2 separate regions of the Homo sapiens genome follow, and region 1 is linked to region 2. A link means that fine-mapping ties the variant in region 2 to the expression of a gene that starts in the linked region. Tissue or cell type: whole blood. Region 2 holds a variant in brackets; the other region holds the start of a gene. Each region is shown on its reference strand, or each on the opposite one. Region 1 holds the start of ZNF304 (zinc finger protein 304). Region 2 has its middle 10 kb from the start of SENP7.

Region 1 (9,632 bases), not on the chromosome of region 2:
ATGGGACTGGGAAAATGAAAGCTGTAACGCAAACAAAGGGCAGGTGAGTGGCGCAGGTAGACCCACTCCACAGAGAAAATAGAATGTTTAGAAAAAATACTCTCCAAGGCGGATGTACCAGGACAGCCCTGTAATCACCACAAGAAGTGACTGTGTCAGCCCCTGAAATTCCTGGCACAGTCAGGCCCCAGGAAATGTCAGCCAGAGGATGAGGGCAGAATCTAGGACAAAGAGGTGCAAAGATCATGACACGGACTCAGGCAGTGGGCACCTGAGCTGTGTAGAATCTGCTTAGCAGACTGAAAAACTCCCGAATCCTAACCTTTTCCTGCAAAGCTCTAGGGCAACAGATGTTCAGATTACCCAGTGAAGGCAGAAACACTGAACACAGCCAGCCCTAGAACCCACAGCACCTACTCTGGGAAACAAAGAAGGGAAGGAGAAGAGTCATGGATCTGGATGGACAGAAAGAGTGGCCCATGGGGAAGAGAAGAAGACTCAAACCCCACCAAGGACACCGGAGTGGGTGTAAAGGCCTGTGGAACACAGCCTCTGAGATGGTCCCAGTGATCCCTACCTCTTGGTACTCTTGCCCCTGTGTAAGCCTCCTCACTTGATTGTAAGCTGGATGGACTTACTTATTTCCAAGGAATAGAATATGGCAAAAATAATGAAATGACACTTTCAAGATTAGGTTACAATCCTGGGCTTCCATCTTGAACATTCTTTTGGTCACTTGCTCAAAGAGAAGTTAGCTTCTGTGTCATAAGGTACAATACAGACAGGCCACCTGAGGGAGGACTTTGGCCAACAGCCAGCAAGGAACAGTGCTCACAGTCCAACAAGCCACAAGAAACTAAATCTTGCAAAAAGCAATGTGAGTGAGCTTGTAAGTGGATTCTTCTCAGGTAAGACCACAACACTGGCTGAGAGCTTGATTAAAACTTCATGAGAGCCAAAAGCACCTGCATAAGAAGGTGTGATCAGGCTGGGCACACTGGCTCAAGCCTGTAATCCCAGCACTTTGGGAGGCCAAGGAGGAAGGATCGCTTGAGGTCAGGAGCTCTAGACCAGCCTGGGCAACGTAGCAAGACCTTATCTCTACAAAAAGTAAAATAGCCGGGCGTGGTGGCATGCACCTATAGTCCCAGCTACTCAGGAGGGTGAGGTGGGGGGGATCACTTGAGCCCAAGAATTTGAGGCTGCAGTGAACCATGATCACAACACTGCACTGTAGCCTGGGTGACAGAGTAAGACTCTCTGAAAAAACAAAAAACAAAAAACAAAAAAAAAACCCTCAAAATAATAAACAACAAAAAATGCTCTAACCAGATTACCAATGCACTGAAACTGGAGAGATAATTGATTTTTATTGTTTGCAGTTACTAAGCTTTGGGATAATTTGCCATGTAGCATTAGATAACTAAAACACAGACTTACCTAGTGTAGCCACAAGTGCAAAGTTCTCCAGCATCACATCACGGTACAGGAATCTCTGTGCCTCCTCAAGGAGTTCCCACTCCTCCCGAGAGAAGTACACGAACACATCCTCGAAGGTCACACAACTCTGCCATGATAAGTACAGCTGAGTCCACAGTCAGCATCTCTCCCCAGAACCCCCTCCTCCCCAGTCTACACACTCACACACCCACTCTCTAGTCCCTCGCCTCCCCAGCCTCCCAACTAAGAGGAGATAACAGACCTTGGCACCACTAGTGTCTGCTCTCTCCTCATGTCCCTCTCACCACTGTGTCCAGCCCAGAGCAGAACCAGGCAAGTGTGCAGACAGATGCTGTCTCAACTCTGGGTCTGGCATGAAGGGTCCCAAATACTCGCCTACCAACCAGTTCTCCTGGTGTTGTCCAGACGATGCCTCTAAACACAACCAAACTTCAGCTCCATCTTCTCCCATGAGCTGCCAATACTAGAGTCTTAAGGGCATCAGTTCACACTCCTCCCAACGTGCTCATTACTCTTTGGACTACACCTTCCTCACATCTGAGATCCCCACCGCCACTGGCCCATGCCATATGCACCTCCATGACATCCCTCATCCCCCATGCCACTCTGCAAGCAGTGTCCAGGAAGCGCTCGCGTCTTCACACTATCCACCACTGCCGTCCAGGTGCCTAAGCAACAGACCCAGTTTTCTCTCAGTGTCCAGTTTCAACTTTCTTACTGAATAACAGCATTACCACCATGATTTGAAGATACCCCATCCCACTCCACACACTGGCCACCATTTTTTTCAACTTCTTCAACAGAACCCTTCCCCAGAACTAAAAACCTGTGTGTTTTCCTGAGGCCTCAACTAAGATGACAACTGAGACCTCTTAACCTAAACATGACCAAAGCCTAACTCCTGATATAACCACTAAAAATCATACCTGCTGCCAACTTCTCTATCTCAGTTGATGGCATTTTCATAATTTTACCAGCTACAGCAAAAACAAACCAACCTTAGGGTCATCCACGACTCTCCTCTCTTTCACCTTTCGCATCAAAAAATCCAATCACCCTACTTTAAAAAACAGAAAATTTACCAACTTCTCTCACCTCCACAGCCACACCTCTAGACCAGACACCATCAACACTACTGCAGTAGCTGCTCCCTCATGCTCACAGTCTGTTCTCAACCTGAAAGCCAGAGAGAGCATGTTAAAATCTGAGTCAGATCATCTCCCTCCTCTGCTCCAAATCTCCCACGACTTTTACCACACTCAAGACACCTCGGCCAGCCATTCCTGCCTAACTCCTTCCTCTGATACCTGTTTCCAACAAAGGTAATTAAGACCTGAGATTCCCTGAGCGCTCCAAACTCAATCCTACAAGCATTTGAGCGTACCTGTTCCTAGGTCTGATATACTTTTGCAGTACTCATCCCATTGGTCGCCAGGTGGGGACTTCTCCACATAACTCCATACAACTCATGGCCTGGATTCAGGACACTAAACTAGAAATGACCTCCATTCACTGCCCCCTGTCTCAAGTGAAGACAGTCATGTGAAGAATCCCAGGATATCATCACTATGTCTCATCAGAGAATCTGGTCAGCCTTCCTTATAAAATACATACAAAACCCAAAACCCATACATTCTCTAACCTCTGCTGCCACCACTCTGGCCCAGACCATCAACGCTCACCTGGACTATTTCAGTAGACTTCATCTTGATCTCCCCGTCTACCCTATAATCCCTAGTCTACCCACTCTGCAGCCAGAGGGAGCCTTTTAAGAACTGCGTCAGAGGACCTCCCTTCTCTGTACCAAACCTTGCATGACTCCCAGCACCCTCAGAAGAGAGGACCAGCTCCTCGGGCGGCCATTCCAGGCCTACCTCTGACCCCCTAGTCCCTGTTCTCACCAGGCACAGAGAGTTCCCGGAACTCCCCAAACTCATTCTCCTCTCCATGCATGCATTTGTACGAACTGCCCCTGCGCCTTCGAGTCCGTTCCACACCTTATGCCACTGATGAGGGGAGCGGAACCCCTCCACATAATGCGACGGAGTGAGCACCCTGAAGTGCGCGATGAGAGCGAACATCCCAGGACACACCAACCAGGCCGGGGTGCGCTTGAGGGATGCCCCCACTCACCTGAACCCGGTCCATCAGCACCGCCGCTGCCATGAGAAGCGGATGAACAGTCTGTGCCCTGTGGGCTCAGCCGAAACCCCACGCCTCCACCGCGCTGGACGCCCTCGGGCTGAGTGTAGCACTCCAAGTCTCAATCTACCCGGTGTAAAAACGCTCACAAGACTAAGGCGGCTGCTTCTGGGGGAGACAAGGACAAGAGGACGTGTGTGGAGGCCTCGGTAAGAGCCCAGCCCCGGCAGACACCTCCGCGAGAGGCCGCCCGTCCCACGACAGGGGTCATGGATTGTAACAAAAGCGCGAAGGAAGGTCCTGCAGTCTTCACTGTCTTTCTTTGCTAGGTTCCACGAGAGCCGCGTAGAAAGCCGACCCGATCTCTAGAACTCAGCCTTCACAACCAGAATGCACGGACCGGGCATAGGAAAAATACGTCACGACGGCGACGCCAGAAGTCTCGCCCCTGCAGCCCAGAGCAGCAGGAAACGCCCAGTTTCTGGGCTGTCATTGGCTGCACGCCGGCTAACAATGAGCTGGGCACAGATTTCTGGGTAACGTAGTTTGTACCCTGCATCCAACCAGGCAACGAGCGCCTTTCGGGTTCTCCCGGATGTCTGCCAAGAGGCGTCGTGCAGGGAGGGGGAGAAAAGACTGGGAAAACGATATCTCGGAGGCCACAGCTGCTTTTAAAGGGTATGCACCCTGATTTCCATGGCCACCTGGGACAATGCCACGCCACTGAAGTCGCCAGCAAGGGACCCATTCTTCAATCCTGCTTCTGAGGCCCTGGGAAACCTGCTTCACCTCTCTCAGATTTGGGGATTGAAACGTATTAATAAATTGAACGTTGTCTGTATTTCGTTTGTGGGCCTTTTTGTAAAACATTGAATGTCCTTCTAATTTTTCTAACATATAAAGAAAAGAGATGTAATTAGCTACCTTTCTGCTGGCTGTACAGGAAGCATGGTGCCCGTATCTGCTTCTGGTGAGGCCACAGGGAACTTTTATTCATGGCGAAAAGTGAAGGAGGAACTTACATGTAACATGACGAAAACATGAGCCTCTTCTAATTCATTGCTTCCCAATTTGATATGTAGTTTTACAGCATCAGCTTCACTATGAACTTAAAAAACCTGTGAATTCTTGGACCCAACCTATACCTTCTGATAAACTCTGGGGATGGGACCCTAGCTGAAGTTCAAGAACTGGAGGTCTTTTAAAGTCATTAGCCAAAAACAAAACAAAACAAAAACAAACAAAAAAAAATCAGTAAGATGAAAAACACTACAACCAACCTCATTAGGAATATGGGAAGTGAGGTAAAAAGTACTTAACACCAGGCCTGGCACATCGTGCTAAATACATACAAGCTGTTATCAGTCTTCCTCAACACAAGGTTCTCACATACACTGCTTTAGGAAGATAAATCAAAGATCCACCTTTTCAGGATCAGTGTGATTTTGAAAAAAAAAGAAAAAAGTACAATTATTCCCTCACTCATCAAATAGCATCATAGATAATAGTTATAATTTTTTTTTGAGACAGAGTTTCACTCTTGTTGCCCAGGCTTAAGTGCAATGGCACGATCTCAGCTCACTGCAACCTCTCCCTCCCAGGTTCAAGCGATTCTCCTGCCTCGGCCTCCCGAGTAGCTGGGATTACAAGCATCCGCCACCATGCCCGGCTAATTTTGTATTTTTAGTAGAGATGGGGTTTCTCCGTGTTGGTCAGGCTGGTCTCGAACTCCTGACCTCAGGTGATCCAACTGCCTCAGTCTTCCAAAGTGCTGGGATTACAGGTGGGAGCCCCTAATGGTTATAATTTTTGCACAAAAGCACACCAATATATCAATAGACTCATTTAATTGAAAAAAATCACATGCAAGAGGGTTTCATAAACTACAGGTAGGTCTATCGTCCAGAAGACACATTCTTATAGGCTGTATGATTCAAAACACAGAACTATCAAGACTAATTGCTCTTCATAATTTTTAACTCCACTGTCCACTTAAGAGTCACTGTAGTTAAAATTTTATAACCTGGTTTATTTTATGAGATGACATAGAAATAATTCATATCTTTGAGAAAAAATATATATACACACATACACACAGCATTTATATATATATACACATGTAGTTTATATACACACATACATAATTATATATATGTATAATATAAATTATCTGTCTCCACTCAAAGCCAATATAAATTTAGGTGTCAGGAACACATGGAATAACATACGGAGTCAGTTACAGATATAACTGCCAGCAGATTTCTATGCACGACAAATGCACTGGCTAAGAAAAACTGAAATAAGACTATTTGAAGCCCAAAATGAGAAATTTAATGGATAAAAATAACTGGCATAAAATAACACTTTTAAGATCCTTCTTAAGGTTGAAGGAAAGTGATCCCAGGTGATGGTCTGTGATGATAGAAGAAATGAGGATCTGAGAGAGGAGTGCATCTATGGATTAATGAGACCACTCATTATCTGTATAAAATATTAATACTGTTGGGCGCGGTGGCTCACGCCTGTAATCTCAGCACTTTGGGAGGCCAAGGCAGGCGGATCACGAGCTCAGGAGTTCGAGACCAGCCTGTCCAACATGGTGAAACCCTGTTTCTACTAAAAATACAAAAATTAGCCAGGCGTGGTGGTGGGCGCCTGTAATCCCAGCTACTCAGAAGGCTGAGGCAGGAGAATCACTTGAACCCGGGAAGCGGAGGTTGCAGTGAGCCAAGACTGTGCCACTGCACTCCAGCCTAGGCAACAGAGTGAGACTGCATCTCAAAATAAATAAATAAATAAAAATTAAAATAAAAAATAAAATAAAATATTAATACTTCTGGAAACAGAATGGTGGAATTACCATGCATATCCTCAATAGTATATAAACTCATATGGGCAAATTAACTAACATATAAGTTTCTTATATTTCTTGAGGAGAGCAAATACATTAACTCTATAATGTATTAAATAACTGTTTTAAAGCTTAAACATTAACTGAATCAGAGTATATATCTTACAAATTTAAAGAAAATGTAAATGTAAAGAAAACATTACAAAAAATAAAGTACACACAATAAGTAAGGCAAAGAAAAGCACACACACAACCAGAGGATGTATATAAACCCAAATATATCAGCTATCTCATGAAATGAGTATGGAATAAATTCTTAAATTAGCACTTAGTAAGTTTTGATGTGTTAAAAATTTCCAAAAGGCCAGGCACAGAGGCTCATGCCTATAATTCCTGCAATGTGGGAGGCTGAAGCAAGAGAACTGCTTGAGGTCAGGAATTCTATTAATAGATCAGCCTGAGCCACGTAACAAGGCCCCATCTCTACCAAAAAAAAAAAAAAAAAAAAAAAAAAAGTAATAGCAGGGTGTGGTGGCACAAGCCTGTAATCCCAGCTACTCAGGAGGCTGAGCCAGGATGATGACTTGAGCCAAGGCTGCACAGAGTTCTGATGGTGTCACAGCACTCCGGCCTGGGAGAGACAGTAAGACCGTCTCTCATAAAGAACAAAAACAAAAAACAGTAGTATGGGTACAAGAAACACTTGTAGAGTATAATATTAGAAAACTATATGAAACAGCTTTGGGAAAAATATATTTAATACAACAAAGAATTAACACATGAAAATGAAAATTTATATCAGAAAATATCAGTATTAAAGAAACGATCACTGGCCAAGTGCAGTGGCTCATGCCTGTAATCCCAGCACTTTGGCAGGTCAAGGCAGGTGAATCAGGAGTTCAAGACCAGCCTGGCCAACATGGTGAAACCCCGTCTCTACTAAAAATACAAAATTAGCTGGGCGTGGTGGCGGGCACCTGTAGTCCCAGCTACTCAGGAGGCTGAGGTGAGAGAATCGCTTGAACCCGGCAGGCGGAGGTTGCAGTGAGCCGAGAGATCACGCCATAGCACTCCAGCCTGGGCGACAAGAGCTAAACTCCATCTCAAAAACAAAAAAAAAAAGAAAGAAAGAAAGAAAGAAAACAAAAAAAGAAAGAAATGATCACCAAGAAATTATATTTTGAACTCTATGTAATGTATAATGCTGACTTGTATTACATAAAGCAACAATTTGTAAAAGGATAAAGACATAAATCTATGAATATGCTGAGCATTTTTATGTCCATTATCTCAGCAATTAGTAGAAACAATATAAAATTGTTAAAGTTCTAGTGAATTCTCATGCCAAGATTGATAATTCTGGTCTAATAAATACAAATATGGGGTGCTTATATTTAGTACAACTGAATATTTACAGAACTATCAATATAGATGACTGAAAACTATCTTCAATTCACATAGAGTGAAATAAGACACATGATGCTATCAAGATATGAATCAATAAAAGAGATACATGGAAAATATGAAAAGAAGTAAATATACTCTGTGGGAGGCTAAGCCTCAGCAGGATCTTTGGCATTTATCAAAACATAAAATACAATAACACCCTAACTCAGCAGCTAGCCTCATAGGTATGATTAAAGATTTTACATGAAAGCACACATTTGGGTTATTTCTTCAACAGTTCAGAAAAAGTGTGCCTAAAACCATAGGTAGGCATGCTGCTCAAGAGACTCGTTATTACAGGCCACAAGATTCAAATTTTTGGACTGTAGTCCCAGTTATTCGGGAGGCTGAGACAGGAGAATGGCTTGAGTCTAGGAGTTCAAAGCTGCTATGTGCTATGATCCCGCCACTGTACTCTAGCCCGAGCAACAGAGCGAGACCCTGTCTCTAAAACTAAAATTTTAAAAAGAAGATTCTAATTTTGGAAATAGCAGGACTAATTGCTCTCAGACCTAAGTGGAGAGTAGAATTCATCCCGTTTCAAGTTTGTGACTTTAGAGGACACTTCCTTATTCATCTTTCATTCACAGTAACCGAAACCTGCCTCTCTACCTCTCGTTCTCCCTTCTGGCACTCAAGGCAGGTAGATCCAATCACAAACTTGATTATGAGAGGGTCCTGCCTGAAACTAAGAGACATAAGTCAGGTCCTGTCCTCATCAAAACATCACCAGCTGGGCGTGGCGGCTCACGCCTGTAATCCCAGCACTTTGGGAGGCCGAGGCGGGCAGATCACCTGAGGTTGGGAGTTCAAGACCAGCCTGACCAACATGGAGAAACCCCGTGTCTAGAAATACAAAATTAGCCAGGCCTGGTGGCATATGCCTGTAACCCAAGCTAGTCGGGAAGCTGAGGCGGGAGAATTGCTTGGACCCGGGAGGCGGAGGTTTCGTTGAGCGGAGATCGCACCATTGCACTCCAGCCTGGGCAATAAGAACGAAACTCCATCTCCAAAAACAAAAACAAAACACAAAAAAACCACCATCACCGCTGAGTACAGTGGCTCATGCCTGTAATCCCAGCACTTTGAGAGGCCGAGGTGGGTGGATCACTTGAGGTCAGGAGTTCAAGACCAGCCTGGCCAACATGGTGAAACCCCGTCTCTACTAAAAATACAAAAATTAGCAGGGCATGGTGTTGGGTGCCTGTAATCCCAGCTACTTGGGAGGCTGAGGCAGGAGAATCGCTTGAACCTGGGAGGTGGAAGTTGCAGTGAGCCGAGATTCTGCCATTGCATTCCAGCCTGGGCGACAAGAGCAAAACTCTGTCTCAAAAGCAAAACAAAAGCAAAAACAAAAACAAAACAAAACAAAACACCACCGCCATCAAATTTTGTTTCTGTAGCACAGGAAGACTATAGTCACAATATAAATTGTCTCCACTCACATCCAGTATATAGTGACTCATGGATGTAGTGGAAGGATACAGTGAAGTTACTGAAGAAATAAGTGCAAACCTAGATTTCTATTCACAACAATAGTGTTTTTCAAGAAGCAGTATAAAATAAGACCATATGAGGTAAAAAATGAAAATTTTAGTTAAAAAGGTAACCCAAAAGGTTATATTTAAGGCAAAAAAAAAGTGATTCCAGGTGAGAGATCTGCGTGATATAAGGAATGCATCTGCGGATCAATACAATTATTCATTATCTGTATAAAACATGAACAATATCC
Region 2 (8,908 bases):
CCACAATAGGCTGTCTGCGAGCTGAGGAGCAAGGAGAGCCAGTCTGAGTCCCAAAACTGAAGAACCTGGAACCGATGTTCAAGGGCAGGAAGCATCCAGCACACGAGAAAGATGTAGGCTGTGAGGCTAGGCCCATCTCTCTTTTTTCATGTTTTTCTGCCTGCTTTATATTCGCTGGAAGCTGATTAGATAGTGCCCACCAGATTAAGGGTGGATCTGTTTTCCCCAGTCCACTGACTCAAATGTTAATCTCTTTTGGCAACACCCTCACAGACACACGCAAGATCAAAACTTTGTATCCTTTAATCCAATCAAGTTGACACTCAGTATTAACCATCACATAGCCCTGATATTTTCTTTTAGTAATTTTTCATCCACTGACCCCACCTTGCTCCTTGGCTATAAATCTCCACTAGTCCTTGTATTCAGAGTTGAGCCTGATCTTTCTCTCCTACTGCAAATTCCTCACTGCAGTAGTCCTTGTATAAGATCTTCCTTACTGTCTTCAACAAGTATATTAGGCCATTCTTGCATTGCTATAAGGAAATACCCAAGACTGGGTAATATATAAGAAAATAAGTTTAATTGGCTCACAGTTCTGCAGGCTGTACAGGAAGCATAGCATCAGCATCTACTTCTGGAGAGGCCTCAGGAAGCTTACAATCATGGAAGAAGGTGAGGGGGGAACAGGCATCTCACGTGGTAAGAGCAGGGGCAAGCAAGGTAAGGAGAGTACCACACACTTGTAAATGACCAGATTTTTTGAAAACTCACTATCATGAAGATGGCACCAAGCCATCAGGAATCTGCCCCCATGACCCAAACACCTCCCACCAGGTCCCACCTCCAGCATTGGGGATTACAATTCAACATGAAATTTGGGCAGGGACAAATATCCAAACTTTATCATTCTGCCCGTGGCCCAAATCTCATGTCCTCATCACTTTGCAAAATACAATCATGCCTTTCCAACAGTCCCCCCAAATCTTAACTCATTCCAGCATTAACTCAAAAGTCCAGAGTCTCATCTGAGGCAAGGCAAGTTCCTTCCATGTATGAACCTATAAAATAAAAAAGAAGTTAGTTACTTCCAAGATACAATGGAGGTATAGGCATTGGGTAAATATTCCCATTCCAAAAGGGAGAAATCAGCCAAAAGAAAGGGGCTACAGGCCCTATACAAGCTTGAAACCTAGCAGGGCAGTCATTAAATTTTAGAGCTCCAAAAACAACCTCCTTTGACTCTATGTCCCACATCCAGAGCACATTAGTATAAGGGGTGGGATCCTAAGGCCTTGGGCAGCTCCACTCCTGTGGCTTTGCAGGATCTAGCCCCTACAACTGTTCTCACAGGTTGTTGACAGCCAGGAGCTTTTCTAGGTACAGGTTGCAAGCTGCCAGTGGCTCTACCACTCTGGGGTCTGGAGGATGGTGGTCCCCTTCTCACAGCTTTCACTAGGCAGTGCCCCAGTAGAAACTCTGTGTTGGGCCTCCAACCCCACATTTCCCCTTGGCACTGTACTAGGAGCAGTTCTCTGTGAGGGCTCTGCCCCTATAGCAAGCTTCTGTCTAGACACTCGGCTTTTTTTTTTTTTTTTTTTTAAGACAGGGTCTCACTCTGTTGCCCAGGCTGGAGTGCAGTGGCACCATCATGGCTCACTGTGGGCCTAGGCATTCCAGGCTCAGTCTTCCCAACTCATCTTCCTGAGTAGGTGGGACTACAGGTGTGTGCCATCATGCCTGGCTAATTTTTGTATTTTTTGTGGAGATGGAGTTTTGCCATGTTGCCCAGGCTGGTCTTGAACTCCTAGGCTCAAGTGATCCACCTACTTTGGCCTCCCAAAGTGCTAGGATTACAGGTGTGAGCCACCATGCCTAACCACTCAGGCTTTTTCATGTATCCTCTGAAATCCAGGCAGAGGCTGCCAAGCCTCAACTCTTGCACTCTGTGCACCCACAGGCTTACCATCATGTTGAAGCCCCCAAGGCTTATGGCCTGCACCCTGTGGAGCTGTGGCCTGAGCTGAACCTGGGCCCCTTTGAGTCCTAGCTAGAGCTTGAGTAGCTGGGATGTGGGAAGCAGTGTCTGAGGCTGCACAGGGCACTGGGGCCCTTGGTCTGACCCATGAAACCATTCTTCCTTCCTAGGCCTCTGGGCCTGTAATGGGATGGGCTGCCTCAAATGTCTCTGAAATGTCTGTCCTCAAGGACTTTTCCCACTGCCTTGGATATTAGCACTTAGCTCCCTTTCAGTTATGCAAATATCTCTAGCAAGGGGTTACTCTACAGCTCACTTGAATTCCTCTCCTGAAAAAGCCTTTTTTCTACCTCATGGGCAGTTTGCAAATTTTCCAAACATTCACGCTCTGCTTCCTGCTTAAATATAAATTTTAAATTTGAGTCATTTCTTTGCTCCCACATTTGAATGTAGGCTGTTAGAAGTAGCCAGGCGACATCTTGAATGCTTTGCTGTGTAGAAACTTTTTCTGCCAGATACCTAAATCATCACTCTCACGTTCAAACTTCCACAGAACCTAGGGCAGTGGCACAATGCAGCCAAGCTCTTTGCTAAGGCATAACATGTGTGAACTTTGCTCCAGTCCCTAAGTTCCACATTTCCATCTAAGACCTCGTCAGCCTGGTCTTCACTGTCCATATCACTATCAGCATTTTGGTCACTACCATTTAACTGGTCTCTACGAAATTACAAGCTTTCCCTCATCTTCTTATCTTCTTTTGAGCCCTGCAAACCATTCCAACCTCTGCCCATTACCCAGTTCCAAAGCTGCTTCCACATTTTCAGGTATCTTTCTAGCAACATCTTTCTCCTTGGGACTAATTTTCTGTGTTAGGGTGTTCTTGCATGCTATAAAGAAATACCTGAGACTGGGTAATTTATAAAGAATAGGGGTTTAATTGGCTTATGGTTTTGGAGGCTATACAGGCAACATGGCACTAACAACTGCTTGGCTTCTGGGAAGGCCTCAGGGAGCTTTTATTCATGGTAGAAGGTGAAGGGGAGCAGGCCACTCACATGGCAGAGCAGGAGCAAGAGAGAGAGAGGGTGGGGGAGGCACCACACATTTTCAAATGACCAGATCTCACTAGAACTCACTATTGTGAAGACAGCACCAAGCTATGAGGGATCTGCCCCCATGACCCAAACACCTCCTACAGGGCCTCACATCCAGCACTGGGTATTACAATTCAACATGAGATTTGGGTAGGAACAAATATCCAAATCTAAACTGTATCAACAAGTGTCATAAATAATTTATTTCTGAACATGCTATTCCTTCTCAGTCTTTCAGCTGTAGCTGAGCTAGCCTTCTTTCTCCTGCCTGAACACCTTTGCATAGGCTGTTCATTTGCCTGTGACTTTGTTCCCCTAGCCAACTACTATTGTTCTTCAAACTAAGCATCATTTTCTTTGGGAAATATTCCCTGAACCCCAAGGCTGGTTAGCTCTCATGGTAGATATTCCATGGCACCCTTTCCTTTTTTTTTTTTTTTTTTTTTTTTTTTAAGATGGAGTTTCACTCTTGTCGTCCAGGTTGAAGTGGAGTGGCACGATCTTGGCTCACTGCAACTTTTGCCTCCCAGATTCACGTGATTCTCCTGCCTCAGCCTCCCAAGTAGCTGGGATTACAGGCGCTTGCCACCATGCTTGGCTAATTTTTGTATTTTTAGTAGAGATGGGGTTTCACCATGTTGGCCAGGCTGATCTCAAACTCCTGACCTCAGATGATCCGCCCACCTCAGCCTCCCAAAGTGCTGGGATTACAGGTATGAGACACCGCGCCCAGTCTCCTTTACTATTTAACACTCTTCACGTTTGTAATTTCTCAGCCATTGTAAACTCTGTAAAGAGAAAGGCAATGTTGGGGTTGTTTGCTACGGTGTCCCAAACACCTAGTCTTGACTGGCACATAGTAAGCACTCAGATATTAGTTGAAGATGTGAGTGAACATA[T/C]GCACAAGACCAACAAATTTATTTAAAATTTATTTTTCTTCAGACCTGGTGAACAGGGAGTACAACAAATTTTAACAAAAAACATAAACACACAAAGAATGCAGTTTGCTTATGATGTTTAATTTTTATGTTCACTTTTAATTTTACTATGGTATTATTATAGAAATCAAAGATTGATTCAATATCTAATTTTTATCAATTGCCATTTTGTTGTCATTATATCAAACCACAGCTTTTTAAAAGAAAGATCTTCACACTTAACTAACACTGTAAAATATTAATGATGACACTGAATTCCCAGTTCATCAACAGGCTACAAAAGAGAGAATATGTTCACTTTTCAAAAAAGCAACAAAATGGCCAGGTGCAGTGGCTTATGCCTGTAAGCCCAGCACTTTGGGAGGCCAAGGTGGGTGGATCACCTGAGGTCAAGAGTCCTAGACCAGCCTGGCGAACAGCCCGTCTCTAGTAAAAATACAAAAATTAGCTGGGCGTGGTGGCATGTGCCTGTAGTCCCAGCTACTTGGGAGGCTGAGGCAGGAGAACTGCTTGAAACCAGGAGGTGGAGGTTGCAGTGAGCTGAGATGGTGCCACTGCACTCCAACCTGGGTGACAGAGACTCCTCCTCCTCCTCCTCCAAAAAAAAAAAAGCAACAAACCTGGCCATGGCCATGTGCAGTGGCTAATGCCTATAATCTCAGCACTTTGGGAGGCTGAGGTGGGAGGTTCGCTTGAGGCCAGATTTCCATACCACCCTGGGCAGCAAAGTCAGACCCTGCCTCATAAAAACCAAATAATAAAAAGTAACAAATCAAACCTCAAGCCAGAACATCATATTGTGTGTGAGTTGAAAGTGTTCTTTTTTCTTCCAGAATCTGTATTAGCAAAGTTGCAGAAGGACAAAAAAATCTTAGATGACAAAAGTAGTTTAAGCACTTTGCTTTCTTTTTGTGGAGCTTCTAGTCACTATTGGCATTCGAGAGAAATTAATGGTTGTTCTGGCTTTTAAAGCTTTTTTAAAGTACTTAAAAATTGACTGAAGGCTAGAGGAAGGGGCTAAGATGTACTTTTCTGTGCCAGCAGAAACCATAGGAAATTCCTTTTTGAAAACAGTAGCTGCAGGTTTATCCAAAGGCTTAGGACTTGTCACCCATTCACGGCAGTGGTGCTTTATCCATGCTAATAATTGTACATCACTTCCCAGCTGGTGTCCTACGTGATGTTCAGAGTCGATAAGTGCAACAGCATATACTTTGCTCATCACTTCCCACCTTCTACGAACAAGCAAGTCCATAAAAACCAAGCCTCCATAACCATGTACAATGAAGGCAATATCCTTGCCTTCAGTCTTTGAAATGAAGTAATCCCATATGTAAGCCGTGTGTTCTTCGGGGGTGTTGCTGCATCTTTTTGGAATGCATTTGGGAGGATGCTGGAGAGAGAAAAAGCTCCCACCTTGAACCATTTTTAGAGAAGATGACTCAATATTTTGTGTTAAAAGGCCTTTCCACTCTTTTTCCACCTTTGGTTCCACAAAATTATCATTGGGGTTTAGCACAATTACATCATAGTGTGCCTGCAATGCCATTTGAATACATGGTATCTGACTTCCATGTTGGAGACCATGATGTATTATTGCCTGTTGACTCCACTGACCAGCTCGAAAGACCCCATGGTCTTGAAGAAGGATAAGAAGAGCAGAATGGTGATTTGTTAATGCTTTCTCGCTCATGAAAAAGAAGCTTCTTGGTTCTTCTTTATCAGCCTCAGGTGGGATATATACTTTTTCTAATTTGCACACTTTCTCCAAAAGCTCATAAATGTATTGTTCAAGCAAATGGCCAAGGGCCTGGTAGCGCTTGCTATTTTTCTCAAGGACATTTTCATAATAGTTAAAGACAAAAGGCCTTTGTGTCTCAGTATGTCTGAATTCATCTTTTTCATTGAAGTCATATTTAAGTTCTCCTAGTAAGTCAGATTGTTCAATAAATTTTTGGAAGCTCAGCTCCTGTGTCATTGGTAACCACTGAAAGTTAAAAGAGTAATAGTATATAAGTGCTAGCAAAAGTAAAATGAAAATTTCAGCTTGCCAAATTCTTCCTATGGCACATGATGCTAAATTAAGCATGTCAGAAAGACATTAACCTTCTAACCTATGGTAAAGACGTCAATTCAAAATAATTGTGAATGATTCAAAGCAGTGAAAGACTGAATATATGAAGAGACAATGGAGAGACCATATGTAAATATGGATTTTTTGACATAACCTGCAGCAACCTGCCCAGGAAGCCAACCCCTCATTTACAATAAACAACTCAGGAAGTCAGTCTGGTATGTCAGACTGGCAGGAAACCAGATTTCTATCACTAGTGAAAATTCAGGAAACTAACCAGTAACTTCTATAACAATTGGTGCCAAATGGCAAGAACTTCATTAATAACTGACAGCTTTCGTAATTTTGTCCCTATTTCCAACTTGAGACCAACCAGAGAGAGCCAAATATGTACCCCTAACCAATCACGCAAGATGTCCCCATTTCTAGTTAGCTCACCTACAGCTTCCCCATGACAACTTGCAATCAGGGCAAATGCGAAGTCTTCTCTTTTTTCCCCCACTATACAGCTCTCCTACTCTTCTGCCTGCCTTGAGTCTCTGCCAAAACGCAAGTGATAGTGGTGGACTCCCTTGCTACAGCAGGCTCAGAATAAATAGGCTTTTCTCATTTGGTTGGTCTTCATTTATTTCTGCAGAAGATATTTAATAACTTTTGCTGTTAAATGAACGGCAGAAGATAGAAGCGGGAGTGAAATGTGAATCAGGCAATGGAGATTATGATCAATTCAGCGAATACTAGAAGATACAGTTATTCTGATGTCTGAGAAGGAAAAAAATAGGCTAGATGAGAAGTTAACTTAGTTGCTGTAGGTAGAGCTTAAAGCGGGGGAAAAAAGGCTTTGAAAGGTTAAGTGGCTTTCTCTAAAGCCAGACAACTATCAAAGAAATGATTGCATATGAGGCTGACTCTCAAATGCACTCTCTTAACAGATATATTAACACTCTCCCTTCTTAATTTCTTAACACTGACACTGGCAAGCTACAACCTACTTCCAATAAGTTGCACTCAAAATGATTTTCAGTGCAACTTGAGTTGCTATTAGGCCTAAGGCAAAATTCAAATGGTGGTTGCTTGGATGTCTTAAATCTCTTTTAATTTTTTTTTTTTGAGATGGAGTCTCACTCTGTTGCCCAAGCTGGAGTGCAGTGGTGTGATCTTGGCTCACTGCAACCTCCACCTCCCAGGTTCAAGCAATTCTCCTGTCTCAGCCTCCCAAGTAGCTAGGATTACAGCATATGCCACCACACCTAGCTAATTTTTTTGTATTTTAGTAGGTTTCACCGTGTTGCCAGACTGGTCTTGAACTCCTGAGCTCAGGAAATCCACCTGCCTCGGCCTCCCAAAGTGTTAGGATTACAGGCATGAGCCACCACACCTAAATTTTTAATTTTTTTCCCCACTTCAATAAGCTGGTCTAAGATTTCTTAACTCCCTTCTCACTTTCTAAATCTTATTCTCTGACCCCTCTAACGCAACAGGTACTTTATAAAGGTTTTTGGTTGTCCAAAGCACTATCCACACTGCTCTCCATTCCTTCCTTTTCTATGAAAAATGCTTCTAGTCTTTGCTGATCTCAGGTGTTATTTTGGAGAGACAGGGTCTGACTCTGTCACCCAGGATGGAGCGTGGTGGTGTGATCACAGCTCACTGCAGCCTTGACCTTCTTATCTCAGGGAAAAAAAAATATTAAAAGAGATTTAAGACATCCAAGCAAGCACCCCCTCAGCCTCCCAGGTAGCTAGGACTACAGGCACATGCCACCGTGCCTGGCTAATTAAAACAAATTTTTTTTAGAGATGGGATCTCACTATGTTGCCTAGGCTGGTTTGAAACTCCTGGGCTCAAGTGATCCTCCTGCCTTGGCTTTCCAAAGTGCTGGGATTACAGGTGTGAGTCACCATGCCCAGCCTCTCTCTCAGATGTTATTACGTAATTAATTTACTTTTTCTAAAGTGTAAATAATTGACAGACTTAACTATCCTTTAAAAAAAAAAAAGCCTTGAAAATGGATGCAATGCACGGCAAAAATCCATGCTTCAAAAATCCAAGAATTTTTTTTTTTTTTGAGACAGAGTCTCGCTCTGTTCCCTAGGCTGGGGTGCAATGGCACGACCTTGGCTCACTGCAACCTCCACCTCCCAGGTTCAAGCTATTCTCCCGCCTCAGCCTCCCAAGTAGCTGGGATTACAGACATGTGCCACCACGCGTGGCTAATTTTTTGTATTTTTAGTAGAGACAGGGTTTCACCATGTTGGCCAGCCTAATCTCGAACTCCTGACCTCAGGCGATCCACCTGCCTCGGCCTCCCAAAGTGCTGGGATTACAGGCGTGAGCTACCGCGCCCAGCAAATCCAAAAATGTTTTACATCGAGGCCGTGGTGAAACAATCTAATGGGATGTCACAACCTTGTTCAAAATTTTCAATGGTGATGTTTGTTGACTTCTTGTTTCCAGACTGGCATGTAAAAATCTTGGAAGTTGCTACTCAGTCCTAACAACAAGTAAAAAGCTAGACAAACCAAAAATCAACAGCTCTTCTTCATAAGTTCCATAAAATAAGTAAGGTTACTGGGCATACTACTGCCTCCAAAATTGGAGGGACTGAAAGCAAGTGAATGTAGAGAATCACAACTTACCAGAGCAGAAACTAGCCGCTGAAGCCTCCAATGGAACAAGTACCAGGATAGGTAAACCTGAAGGATCAGTGTGGACAAGTCAGAGGGACCTAGCCATTCCCTCTTCCCCGCTCCCCAATTTTTTTTAAGCTCCTGGATCTCTCACAGGTCCTCAGGGTGATTATCCATGCCTCTGGTAGTGGGT

Evidence for each region. PIP is the estimated chance that this variant, and not a neighbour inherited with it, causes the effect. A credible set is the group of variants that fine-mapping cannot tell apart.
Region 1: it holds the start of ZNF304, and the variant in region 2 is the best candidate, but not a certain one, in a credible set for the expression of ZNF304 in whole blood (TOPMed, PIP 0.81).

Annotation. Positions count from the first base shown.
Region 1 is chr19:57,345,660-57,355,291 of GRCh38, reverse strand. It overlaps ZNF304 (zinc finger protein 304), which reads right to left and starts at 4,021. Exons shown (of 3, transcript NM_020657.4): 1 at 3,595-4,021; 2 at 1,441-1,567. The coding sequence starts at 3,627. RefSeq lists enhancers at 3,719-3,788, 3,127-3,985, 3,939-4,028, 3,986-4,845.
Region 2 is chr3:101,518,972-101,527,879 of GRCh38, reverse strand. It overlaps the pseudogene ARB2BP. Among named protein-coding and RNA genes, the nearest start is that of SENP7, 10 kb to the right of the region's middle. The variant T/C (reference allele first, on the strand shown) is at 3,973.